Linked DNA regions of Homo sapiens. The protein of the gene in region 1 binds, or shares a complex with, the protein of each later gene. Each region holds a gene or a part of one and is shown in the gene's direction. Other genes may lie near its edges.

The links.
Region 2: MMS19 (region 1) and CIAO2A share a complex: the UniProt entries of both Homo sapiens proteins name them as parts of the CIA complex.

The regions. Positions count from the first base shown.
Region 1 is NC_000010.11:97,460,289-97,467,576, reverse strand, and holds part of MMS19 (MMS19 nucleotide excision repair protein homolog), read left to right. Parts: coding exon 1-72; intron 73-675; coding exon 676-801; intron 802-991; coding exon 992-1,073; intron 1,074-1,417; coding exon 1,418-1,518; intron 1,519-1,622; coding exon 1,623-1,772; intron 1,773-3,563; coding exon 3,564-3,719; intron 3,720-4,894; coding exon 4,895-4,994; intron 4,995-5,457; coding exon 5,458-5,560; intron 5,561-5,680; coding exon 5,681-5,749; intron 5,750-5,954; coding exon 5,955-6,081; intron 6,082-6,569; coding exon 6,570-6,670; exon of another isoform or gene 6,671-6,757; intron 6,758-6,825; coding exon 6,826-6,882; intron 6,883-7,288. UniProt on the Homo sapiens protein: Key component of the cytosolic iron-sulfur protein assembly (CIA) complex, a multiprotein complex that mediates the incorporation of iron-sulfur cluster into apoproteins specifically involved in DNA metabolism and genomic integrity.
Region 2 is NC_000015.10:64,071,979-64,077,040, reverse strand, and holds the end of CIAO2A (cytosolic iron-sulfur assembly component 2A), read left to right. Parts: intron 1-1,503; coding exon 1,504-1,549; exon of another isoform or gene 1,550-4,012; coding exon 4,013-4,110; 3' UTR 4,111-4,476; downstream 4,477-5,062. UniProt on the Homo sapiens protein: Component of the cytosolic iron-sulfur protein assembly (CIA) complex, a multiprotein complex that mediates the incorporation of iron-sulfur cluster into extramitochondrial Fe/S proteins.

The DNA.
Region 1 (7,288 bases):
AGCGGCGGACAATCCTTGAAATGCTCCTGGGTTTCTTGAAGCTGCAGCAGAAATGGAGCTATGAAGACAAAGGTGAGGTTGCCTTCCATTGCAGTGCTCTGGGGACTGTTGAACACTTCAGCCTATAAAGGATAGCAGGGCAAAGAGTGCTGTGGAAAAGTAGTCTAGAACAGTGGTCCTATTCTGAGGTTGTAGCACAAGAGAACACTTAACAGATGAGATGGATGAGATCTGTTTATTTTTCTCAGTGTGCTTTCTGGATACCCAATGGATTAAGCTCTTTAAATCTGCCCCAGGAGGCGGGGCATGGTGGCTCACACCTATAATCCCAGCACTTTGGTAGGCTAAGGCAGGCGGAAAACTTGAGGTTAGGAGTTCGAGACCAGCCTGGCCAATATGGTGAAACCCTGTCTCTACTAAAAATACAAAAATTAGCCAGGCCTGTTGGCACATGCCTGTAATTCCAGCTACTCGGGAGGCTGAGGCAGGAGAATGGCTTGAACCTGGGAGGCAGAGGCTGCAGTGATCCGAGATTACGCCACTGCACTCCAGCCTGGGCAACAGAGGCCTTGTCTCAAAAAAAAAATCTACCCCAGGTTGGCTGTGTATCACAGCTTAGTCAGGGATATGGAATGCAGTGGCTTCCTTCTAACCTGGCCTCTGTCTCTTCCCTAGATCAAAGGCCTCTGAATGGCTTCAAGGACCAGCTGTGCTCACTGGTATTCATGGCTCTAACAGACCCCAGCACCCAGCTTCAGCTTGTTGGCATCCGTACACTGACAGTCTTGGGTGCCCAGCCAGGTACATCTTAAGGGAAAGAGAAGAGGAAAATATTGGTCCTTTTCTTGTAAGACTGCCTTGGTGAAAAGCAGCCTTACTATCCTCTTCTTACTGCAACTCTGGATGATTTGGGATTTCTAATAAGAGCTTAGAAGGGTTGTGATGGCTGCAGGGGAAGAAAGATGAGATTCATGTTCCCTTCTAACTACAGATCTCCTATCTTATGAGGACTTGGAGCTGGCAGTGGGTCACCTGTACAGACTGAGCTTCCTGAAGGAGGATTCCCAGAGTTGGTGAGAATTTAAAGCAATGAGATAGAGCAAGCTGTTCCCTGCCTCTGTATTGGCAGCAAAAGATCAAGCTAGGACCAGGGCTCTGTGCTTCTGACCCTTGGCTCTCCTTAGGGGAGGTGAGCTCTGTGTTAGACTCTGGCTGCTAACCAGTTGGAGAGATGTAGGACTGCTCTCTTCTTAGGCTTTAAGAAGCCCTGTCCAACTCAGTGGTGTAGGTACTTGAGTTCTGCTCTTTAGCAAGGAGGCGTTGGGAGCTCACACTCCTGAATCTGCCTAATATCAGACGTAGGCAAGAGAGCTGTGAGCCCAGGCTCAGCCAATGCTTATCTGCTCTGCGCCTCCAGCAGGGTGGCAGCACTGGAAGCATCAGGAACCCTGGCTGCTCTCTACCCTGTGGCCTTCAGCAGCCACCTCGTACCCAAGCTCGCTGAGGAGCTGCGTGTAGGTATGTGTCTCTAATCCTCTGTGGCCCATCCCTTTCCAGCAAGGCTTTGGGGCCTTCGTGCTTCCTATCACACAGTAAACCTTTGTCTCATGGGTTGCTTTCAGGGGAGTCAAATTTGACTAACGGAGATGAGCCCACCCAATGCTCCCGGCATCTGTGCTGTCTGCAAGCCTTGTCAGCTGTATCAACACATCCCAGCATCGTCAAGGAGACACTGCCTCTGCTGCTGCAGCATCTCTGGCAAGTGAACAGAGGTAACTACTAGGAATAACCACCAACGGACTGGGCTGAATAGGGAGCTGTAGTCTCTAAGGCAGTGGTTCTAGCTGTAGCTATACATAAGAGTAACAGAATCAACTCTTTTAAAAGAAAAAAAAAATACTGATGCCTGCGTCCAACTGAATCAGTCTCTGAGGAGGGATGGGACTTAGGCAACAGTACTATTAAGAGTACCCGGCCAGGGCCGCTGCTCTTGCCTGTAATCTCAGCACTTTGGGAGGCCGAGGCCAGCAGATCACTTGAGGTCAGGAATTTGAGACCAACTTAGCCAACATGGAGAAACCCAGTCTCTACTAAAAATACAAAAAATTAGCTGGGCATGGTGGCATGCGCCTGTAATCCCAGCTACTGGGGAGGCTGAGGCAGGAGAATCTCTTGAACCCACAAGGCGGAGGTTGCAGCGAGCTGAGATTGCGCCACTGTACTCCAGCCTGGCCAGCCTGGGCAATAGAGTGAAACTCTATCTCAAAAGAAAAAAAGGGTTGGGCGCAGTGGCACATGCCTATAATCCCAGCACTTTGGGAGGCTGAGGCGGGTGGATCACAAGGTCAGGAGTTTGAGACCAGCCTGACCAACATGGTGCAATCCCGTCTCTACTAAAAATTATCTGGTCATGGTGGCAGGCGCCTGTAATCCCAGCTACTCAGGAGGCTGAGGCAGGATAATCGTTTGAACCTGGGAGGCGGAGGTTGCAGTGAGCCAAGATCATGCCATTGCACTCACACCTGGGCAAACAGGGTGAAACTCCATCTCAAAAAAGAAAAAAAAAAGTGCCGGGCTGGGTGTGGTGGCTCATGCCTGTAATCCCAGCACTTTGGGAGGCCAAGGCTGATGGATCACTTGAGCTCAAGAGTTTGAGACCTAACCAGCCGATGCAACATGGCGAAACCGCATCTCTACAAAAAATACAAAAATTAGCCAGGAGCAGTGGCATGCACCTGTAGTCCCAGCTACTTGGGAGGCTAAGGCAGGAGAATCACTTTGAGCCCGGGAGGCAGAGGTTGGAGCAAGCCGAGATCGCTCCATTGCACTCCAGCCTGACCTGGGCAACAGGAGTGAAGCCCTGTCTCCAAAAAAAAAAAAAAAAATTACCTAGGTAATTTTCATGTGGGATCTGAATTGAGAGGCATCACCCTAAGGCCGTGGTGCTCAAAAGATGGTCTGTTAACCAGCAGCATGGGTGACATCTGGGAGCTTGTTAGAAGTGCAGAATCTCAGGCCCTCACTGATCAGAATCTGCATTTTGACAGTGTACCCTGGTAACTCGTAGACTGTTGAGTTTGAGAAGCACTGCTCCAATGCAAAAGTGACAGCAGCCTGCCCTGTGGGTAGATTCAGGCCCACTGTGGTTGATCCAGCAGCTGTTACATAGTAGAATGAATACTAGACTTGGATTATAACTTGGGCTTGATTCCTGACTTTGCACTTCCTGTGACCCTGGAAAAGCCACTGATCATGTATTTCATTGTGCCTCCATGTCCTTCTCTATAGAGTGAGGGAAATGATACTTCTAAGGTTGTTATGAAAAATAAGGAGAGAATATATACAAGTGCTTCTGCTGCAGAGCCTGGGACAGAGCAAGTCTCAACTATGAAGTCTGAATAGATCAGAAAGAACAGCCAGGAGAATAAAGTGACTCAGCTTTTTAATAAGGCACTCTTGGTCCCTTCAGTCACTCTTCTTTGTTCCTCTCATCTGCTGTGTAATTGGAAACACCTGAAAGTGCTTTTAAGCAAACCTTACAGAGAACACTTTCTCATCAACAGGGAATATGGTTGCACAATCCAGTGACGTTATTGCTGTCTGTCAGAGCCTCAGACAGATGGCAGAAAAATGTCAGCAGGACCCTGAGAGTTGCTGGTATTTCCACCAGACAGCTATACCTTGCCTGCTTGCCTTGGCTGTGCAGGCCTCTATGCCAGGTAACTTTCCACCTCTCCTTCCTGGCCTTTGGGAACTTTGCCCTCTGCTGGTGTTGAACAGCACCACCCTCTGGGTATTGGTGGTACTGTATTTTGTACCATCAGAGGTTTATTTTCAATCCTTTGTCCTCAGAGTGAGATTTCACTTCATAGCAAAGGGTGCCACCCTGACCAGTGGCAGGAACCAAAATCCACTAGTGTTAGCAACATTCAAAAGAATGCACACCTTTTCCCCATGAAGTGCTATGTGATTAGTTTACTTAGAATTGGACTCTGGAGTCAAGCCCACCTGGTTGGGTTTTATCCTCAACTCTACCACTTGCTAACTTAGGTGAAGATATTCAGCCTTTCCACGCTTCAATTTCCTCACTTGTAAGATGGAGATAAAGAGTACCGTCTAGGCTGGCGCCATGGTTCACACCTGTAATCCCAGCACTTCAGGAGGCCAAGATGGGAGGATCACTTGAGTCCAGGAGTTTGAGACCAGCCTGGGCAACACAGGGGACCCTGTTTCTACAAATAGTCAGACATAGTGGTGCACACCTATAGTCCCAGCTGCTCAAGAGGCTGAGGTGGGAGGATCACCTGAGCCCAGGAGTTCAAGGCTGCAGTGAGGCATGATTGTGCCTCTGCACTCGAGCCTGGGTGACAGAGCGAGATCCTGTTCCTGTCTCAAAAAAAAAAAAAAAAAAAACTGTTTCACAGGGTAGTTGGTAAGGATTAAATAAGTTAGTGTATAGTACCTGCCACATAGGAAGTACTCAGTGTATGATAGTTGCTATAAATAATAAGGACCCATGAAGATAAATCTATGTTTTTAATTTTTTCAGAGACCAACATTACTATTTTTTTTTCCTTGCATCTCCAGGGACACCAGGGACAACATTTCTATTTCTTATGTTAAGAATGTTCATCTTAGCTATCCCTCTTTCCCACTGTTGGCCTAGTCTAAAGACTGTGCAGAGTTCTCAGGAGCGCTCTGTGGCCCCAGGTCAGACCACTCCTGTTTCTGGTGCCCTGATTCTCAGGACTATAGCACTACCAGAGACCAGATTAAGAACTGCTGTCGTGGCTAGAGTCAAGCCCCAGAGTCAGTGATGCTGACAGAACCCAATCATTCATTTCTTGAACCCGTCATGGTCTTGTGATTGTGTGCATGTGTGTGTGTTTTGCAGAGAAGGAGCCCTCAGTTCTGAGAAAAGTACTATTGGAGGATGAGGTGTTGGCTGCCATGGTGTCTGTCATTGGCACTGCTACAACCCACCTGAGCCCTGAGTAAGTATAATCATGGATGTGGCTTGAACCCAGGGAGAAGGATAGCATTCTTAGGAAGAAGCAACAGGTAGCTGCCTTGTCAGCTGTCCTTTTACCTATATGTAAATGTGGTGCAGTTAATCGTCTTGTAAGTTTTGTTGACAAAACAAAAGGAAGGGGCTCTTAGCACCATGGACTATGAGGGTGGGAAGCCAGGGCCAGTGGTTCTTAGCCGCAGATGTGCTTAAGAATTACCTGTAGAGCATTTTAAAATATACCTTGACTTCCCAGATGGGAACCTGAATGGAAATGATTACTGGCACATATGTGCCAAATTAATATTTGTTCAATGCATGAATGATCAGGGCATGTCCCATTGACGTGGTGATCCTAATTCAAACCCTAGGTTGAAAAGCACGTCTGTGGAGGAGAGGGCTGCTTTAGAATCCTAGCTCCTTGGTCATACCTAGTACTCTGCCCCCAGGTTAGCTGCCCAGAGTGTGACACACATTGTGCCCCTCTTCTTGGATGGCAACGTGTCCTTTCTGCCTGAAAACAGCTTCCCGAGCAGATTCCAGCCATTCCAGGTAACAGTCTTAGAACTTACATCCTTCAAGCTGGTTTTTTTTTAGGGCTAATCTGGAATGGGTAGAGGGGCAGACAAGCTTATTGCTGGCAGGCTTGATCGGGCTCTCCTTCCTTTATAGGATGGCTCCTCAGGGCAGAGGCGGCTGATTGCACTGCTTATGGCCTTTGTCTGCTCCCTGCCTCGAAATGTAAGTGAGCACATTTGGGAAGTACTGTTATTTAACCTTGACAAGGTGACTCCGGGCTGAAATTTGCCACAGGCTAAGCTGATCTTTTACTTCCCCCACCAGAGAAGTTAGTTCTCATCCGTCCCGGTCCCTGCTGCCACTATGTACTGGTTCTCTTGGAGTTCAAGTGTTCTCTGGGTCCATTACATGGCCAGGTTTTCTGTAGGTGGAAATCCCTCAGCTGAACCAACTCATGCGGGAGCTTTTGGAACTGAGCTGCTGCCACAGCTGCCCCTTTTCTTCCACCGCTGCTGCCAAGTGCTTTGCAGGACTCCTCAACAAGCACCCTGCAGGTACTGAGATCAGACTATGTAAGGAGCCTCCCAGAATCAACTACCCATGAAATCTTATAGCTCAGTACTCATTCTCTTTTTAAAAGGAGCTTGCTAATAACATTAACAGGGCTTCAACTGCTCAAGCACTGTCCTGGGACTGCCCGTGGGAAAAGCGTCAAGACCACAGTTGGGCAGAGCTTTATAGTACCTAAGAAGAGAAGGGAGCACAAAGAGTCTAGTTCTGCCGTCCTACTCCCTACAGTGGGGCTAGTGTGGATAATTCTTTATTGGAAGTAGATGACCCTCTCTTTTCAAATGGCAGCACCTCTGTATTATGAGAATACCAGGCTCTTATGCAGGTGTCCAATCATTTTGTCCACAGGCAAAAATGATATTTTCCCTTTCTAACAGCTTCTCAGGGAGCTCTGCACTTAAAGTGATTTGCATTTCATTGCTAAAGGGAAAATGTGTAGCCTTTATGTCAGCATTTCCTCTCTCCTTTTTAGGGCAGCAGCTGGATGAATTCCTACAGCTAGCTGTGGACAAAGTGGAGGCTGGCCTGGGCTCTGGGCCCTGTCGTAGTCAGGCCTTCACTCTTCTTCTCTGGGTAAGGAGTTGGAGTGGAGTCTGGTTAGCCAGAGAGGCAATTATGTCTGGTTAAATAAAATGTCCCTGTTTGACCCTAAACCATAAACATCTATGTCTCAGGGTTCTCGGGTTTGAGTGTCATTCCCCAATTGCTCTCTCTGTCTCCAATTACAGGTAACAAAGGCCCTAGTGCTCAGATACCATCCTCTCAGCTCCTGCCTTACAGCCCGGGTACGTCCTTTCTGGAGACAGAAGAACCCAGGACCTAAACAAACTTTCTGGTTGCTCCTATTCCTCCCAAGGACTTCCATCCTCCCCTGTGTGTTTTTTGTTTTCTTTTCTTTTTTCTTTTTGGAGACAGGGTCTTACTCTGTCACCCAGGCTGGAGTACAGTAGTGCAATCACAGCTCACTCCAGCCTCAACCTCCGTAGGCTCAAGTGATCCTCCCACTTCAGCCTCGCAAGTAGCTGGGACTACAGGGGCACCCCACCACACCCAACTAATGTTTGTATTTTTTGTAAGAACTGGGTTTGGCCATGTTGCCCAGACTCCTAGACTCAAGCAGTCCACCTGCCTTGGCCTCCCAAAGTGCTAGGATTACAGGCATGAGCCACCACACCCGGCCCCATCCTTATC
Region 2 (5,062 bases), on another chromosome or scaffold:
ACGCCCGGCTTGTTTTGTTTTTTAAAAAAAATTGGGGCCAGGTGCAGTGGCTCACGCCTATAATCTCTGTACTTTGGGAGGCCTAGATGGGCGGATCACTTAACCTCAGGAATTCAAGACCAGCTTGGGCAATATGGCGATACGCGGTCTCTACAAAAAAATAGAGACGAGGGAGGAGAGGGGTGGGAGTGTGGGAGCTGAGGTGGGAGGATCACCTGAGCCCAGGAAGTCGAGGCTGTAGTGAGACATGATCGCGCCACTGCACTCCAGCCTAGGCGACAGAGTAAGACCTGTCTCAAAAAAAAAAAAAAAAAAAAGATTGGACTAGATGACCTTTAAGGTCCCTTTTAACTATAATAAGTTATGATTTTTCTCACTCATGAGAAATGTTTATCTCCGTAGTAAATAAGTAAATAAAAATTAGTTCATATGTTCCAGTGTTCTCTGGAAAGTAGACGTCTTTATTACAGCATACTCTCTTTACCACAGGATTTGCAATAATTTTGTAGGTTGTCTTAAAAGCTCTGGGTCTTGGAGGGTAGCTCATGTCTATAGGTGCAGCAGGGCCAGGAGGGATAGCTTAACCAGTATTATACTTGAGAATAAATTTAGCATGATAATAATGAATGAGAAAAGAAGGATGCTGAAAACTATATTGTGATCCCATTTTTGTAAAACAAGCAATGTGAAGAAACTTCCAACCCTGATATGTGGGTGTGTGTGTGTGTAAAATCTGTGTAAGATTATGTGGGTAAAGAGAAGAATATGGAAGAAACCACACTAGATTGTTATTGTAGATTTCCTGAGTCAGTAGCAGGGCAGGAGGAAGTTTAGATACCGAGTTGGGAAGAAGTAGAGTGCAGAAAAGAGATATTCTTAAGTAAAACCACACATATGAGATCTCATTTGTGTAAAATGATATTTTTGTGTATTCATAAAAAAATTAATGGAAATACCACCTGCAGGCCTTTTCCAGGTGAACAAAATAAAAAATCCTACTCATTTCAGTCCTTTTTTTTTTTAGAGAAGGATGTGGGGGATTTGTCCCTATGTCTCTGATGTTAGAAACAGGATTTGGGGGGCGCTGGGCGCAGTGGCTCACGCCTGTAATCCCAACACTTTGGGAAGCCGAGGCGGATCACCTGAGGTCAGGAGTTTGAGACCAGTCTGGCCAACATGGCGAAACCCCATCTCTACTAAAAAAAAAAAATAATAATACAAAACTTAGCTGGGTGTGGTGGCGTCTGCCTGTAATTCCAGCTATTGGGAGGCTGAGGTAGGAGAATTGCTTGAACCCAGGAGGCGGAGGTTGCAGTGAGCCGAGATCATGCCACTGCACTCCAGCCTGGGCAACAGGGTGAGACTCCATCTCAAAAAAAAAAAAAAAGAAACAGGATTTGGGCACTCATCCCTAGATGTTTGAATTTACTGTACATTCCACTTCACTCTCTTATCTTAGAATGCATTAATGTTTTTTCTTTTACTTTTTTTCCCACTTTCCAGTTGGAAATCTACATTTCTGAAGGAACCCACTCAACAGAAGAAGACAGTAAGTGAATGTTGAAACATAATTGAAAAACAACTTCAGATAGTATTTTATCTTGGATACTGGATTCTTCTGCCAGCCAAGAATCTACTGGGTTACTTTCAAAAAAGTGCACAATTGGTTATTGGCTCTTCCTTCCTAGGTGAGGAAACCTAGGCATTTCAAAGAAGTAATTTTTGCAGTGGACTCCGAGTGCACTAGAGCCCACGGATGTTGACTGGTTTAGGCCAGTGGCTACACATCTGTAAAGAATATCCAGTGCTGGGGACCTTGACTTATGAGCTCTAAGTAGGCTTCTTTTCTTTGGTGACAGGATAGAGAGCTGTGTACTTGAAATTGAAGGTCTAGCAAGTAGAGCTTTAGTGAATCTTGGGGTAGGTGCTGTCTCTCTGGGTTAGTATATTAGAATGGGAGTGGGGAACCTTTTTTATATAGAGGACCTCTGGCCTACAGAGAGAAATCAATCAGTAGCTACTTAAAAATAGCAGAAGTGGGGTTTGGGAAAAGCAAAAAACAAAATGTTCTGTATGATCCCTGTGTTACATTAAAAACATAATTTTAATGTTTTTAATCTACAAATGATAGAGTGCAAATAATGAGAAATACATTTAAAAGGCATGTTGTACTTAAGTTTCATCACTAAGTAAATTGAGAAGGTGGGAAAAAATAGCAGAGGAATGGAAGAAAGAGCTAATAGAGGAAGAGCAACAGTGAGATAGATACCAAGAAGACTCAGAAAGGCATACACAGGGCTGGAGAGAGACACACAAAATCTCCTACATAAAAGAGAGCTATAGAGAGGGAAGCCTGCTGCTTCCAGAGGAACAGCCTATCCAGGAAACTTTTTAGGTACTGTCATGAAAACTGTTAAAAACCATGCCCTATTTATAGTTCTAGACATGTAGATTATTATACTCTTTGTGGGCTGAATTTCTTTAAACCCCACGAGCTGAGGGCTTCTACCTGTAATTTAGAAAAATAAGAGTTTAGGTACCCTAAATCCACTCAGGTTATCGTTTTGAAATTCCTTGAATGATAGGATTTTACAGCAGCAATAGTATTAAGTCTTATGAGTCTTGTTTTTCATTTAGTAAGTATTTATTAAGTGCCTTCTATGTGTGGGTACAGTTCAGCCTTTGAGATACATTCCTGCCTTTGTGGAGCCTACATTGTAGTAGGAAGAAACCAAATTGAAAGTATTTTCGCAGGAATATGTGTATGTTTGTGTGTCTTCTACATGAGACATTTCAGCGGCAGCCCAGAAAACTCAATCCACATTAAGAATATAGTCGTCTCTCTTTTGAACTCTTCTATTAAGAATGCTGTTAGCTAATTACAGAAAACATAATGGGCCAATACCTTTATTATATGAAGATCCATTCAAACTAATTTTAAAAAAAGATCTAGTAGATTAATAGAGACATGAACAGGAAATTCATGCAAGAAGAACTAATATATGCACATGGAAAATGTTCTATTTTCCTATTAGTCAAGGAAATGCAAATTATGACAATAATATTGAGCCGTTTTCCATCTCCTGTTTTATGTATGTATATATGTGTATTTGTTTTTATTAAATAATACCAGCTATTGCCCGGGCATGGTGGTTCACACCTGTAACCCTAGCACTTTGGGAGGCCAAGGCGAGAGAATGCCTTGAGGGAAGGAGTTTGAGGCCAGGATTTCAAGACTAGCCTGGGCAACATGGTGAGACCCTGTCTCTACGAAAATATTTGAAAATTAGCCAGGTGTGGTGGTTCATGCCTGTGGGAGGCTGAGGTAGGAGGATCTCTTGAGCCCAGGAGTTGGAGGTTACAGTGAGCTATGATTGCACCACTGCACTCCAGCCTGGATGACAGAGCAGGACCCTGTCTCAAAGAATAATAATAACAATGATAATAATACCAGGTATTGTTGCCAAACTGATAGCTCATGTATTGGTGTTGACAATATAAACTGGTGAGTAATTTTAGGAAGTAAATCAATGATATGAATCACACCATAAAAATATTCATACTCTTAAAAATAATCCCATTTTTGAGAATATTTCCAAAAAGAAGGCTATATGTTTAAAGGTATTCATTGTAGCATAGTCTTCATAATTACTTTAGAACACTTAAGACTTTTACCATGTTAAATAACCCTGTAGTTTAAAATATAGGCTTATGGGGGAAAAAATAGCAATTTTCAAAATTATATTTACTCTGAATGTAACTGTATAAAAATATGTGTATGGACAAAGACTGGAAAGAAAAAAATAGATGTGGTTAAGTAGTAGAATTCTAGTAGATATTTTTCTCTTAAGTCTGCCTTCTAGATGGGAAATTACATTATGAGTAATTAGCCAAAAACAGGTTTAAGTTCTCAAGGAGTTAAAGTTTTTGTTTCAGCAGGCTAATAAAAATACTGTCTGGTGCTGTATATTGACACAGTTCTTCTGCTAACTTTTGTCTGTGTATTTTTCAGTCAATAAGCAGATAAATGACAAAGAGCGAGTGGCAGCTGCAATGGAAAACCCCAACTTACGGGAAATTGTGGAACAGTGTGTCCTTGAACCTGACTGATAGCTGTTTTAAGAGCCACTGGCCTGTAATTGTTTGATATATTTGTTTAAACTCTTTGTATAATGTCAGAGACTCATGTTTAATACATAGGTGATTTGTACCTCAGAGTATTTTTTAAAGGATTCTTTCCAAGCGAGATTTAATTATAAGGTAGTACCTAATTTGTTCAATGTATAACATTCTCAGGATTTGTAACACTTAAATGATCAGACAGAATAATATTTTCTAGTTATTATGTGCAAGATGAGTTGCTATTTTTCTGATGCTCATTCTGATACAACTATTTTTCGTGTCAAATATCTACTGTGCCCAAATGTACTCAATTTAAATCATTACTCTGTAAAATAAATAAGCAGATGATTCTTATAATGACTCACTGTTTTTATTGAATTGTAAATTCCAGTGTAAATGTCAACTCCTAAAGGATATCTTCAAAGCTTTATTTTTGCTGATTATTTTGTAGAATCAGAGATCTGAGAACCAAAAGGAACCCTTAAGATTGGGCCTTCCTTCCTTCCAAGGAGAGTCCTGGACCCTTTCATAGATAAGGAACAAATGTGGAGAAGGCTAGATGGCATACACAATTTTGAAGATCAAGAAGTCCACCAAAGAAGTTTTGATTAAACCAACCTAAATGTATGGTCCGCACTTTATCTGTCCTTCATTTGGTTTGTTTTAGGGGTTAATGGTCATGTGAAGTATAGTAGCCTCCAACATGGCCCCCAAGATCCTCACTTCCTGGTATTCATGCCCTTGTATAGTTAACTTCCATATTGAATTGGAGCTGATGGGTGTGGCTAATAAAGAATGGCAGAGTGACAATGGGTGACTTCTGAGGCTAGATCATAAAAGGTATTGCTGTTTTCACCTTAGGCTCTTGGATTGCTTATTCTGTAGGAATCCAGCTGCTATGTCACGAGAACTCAAGCCACCCTGTGGAGAATTCCACACG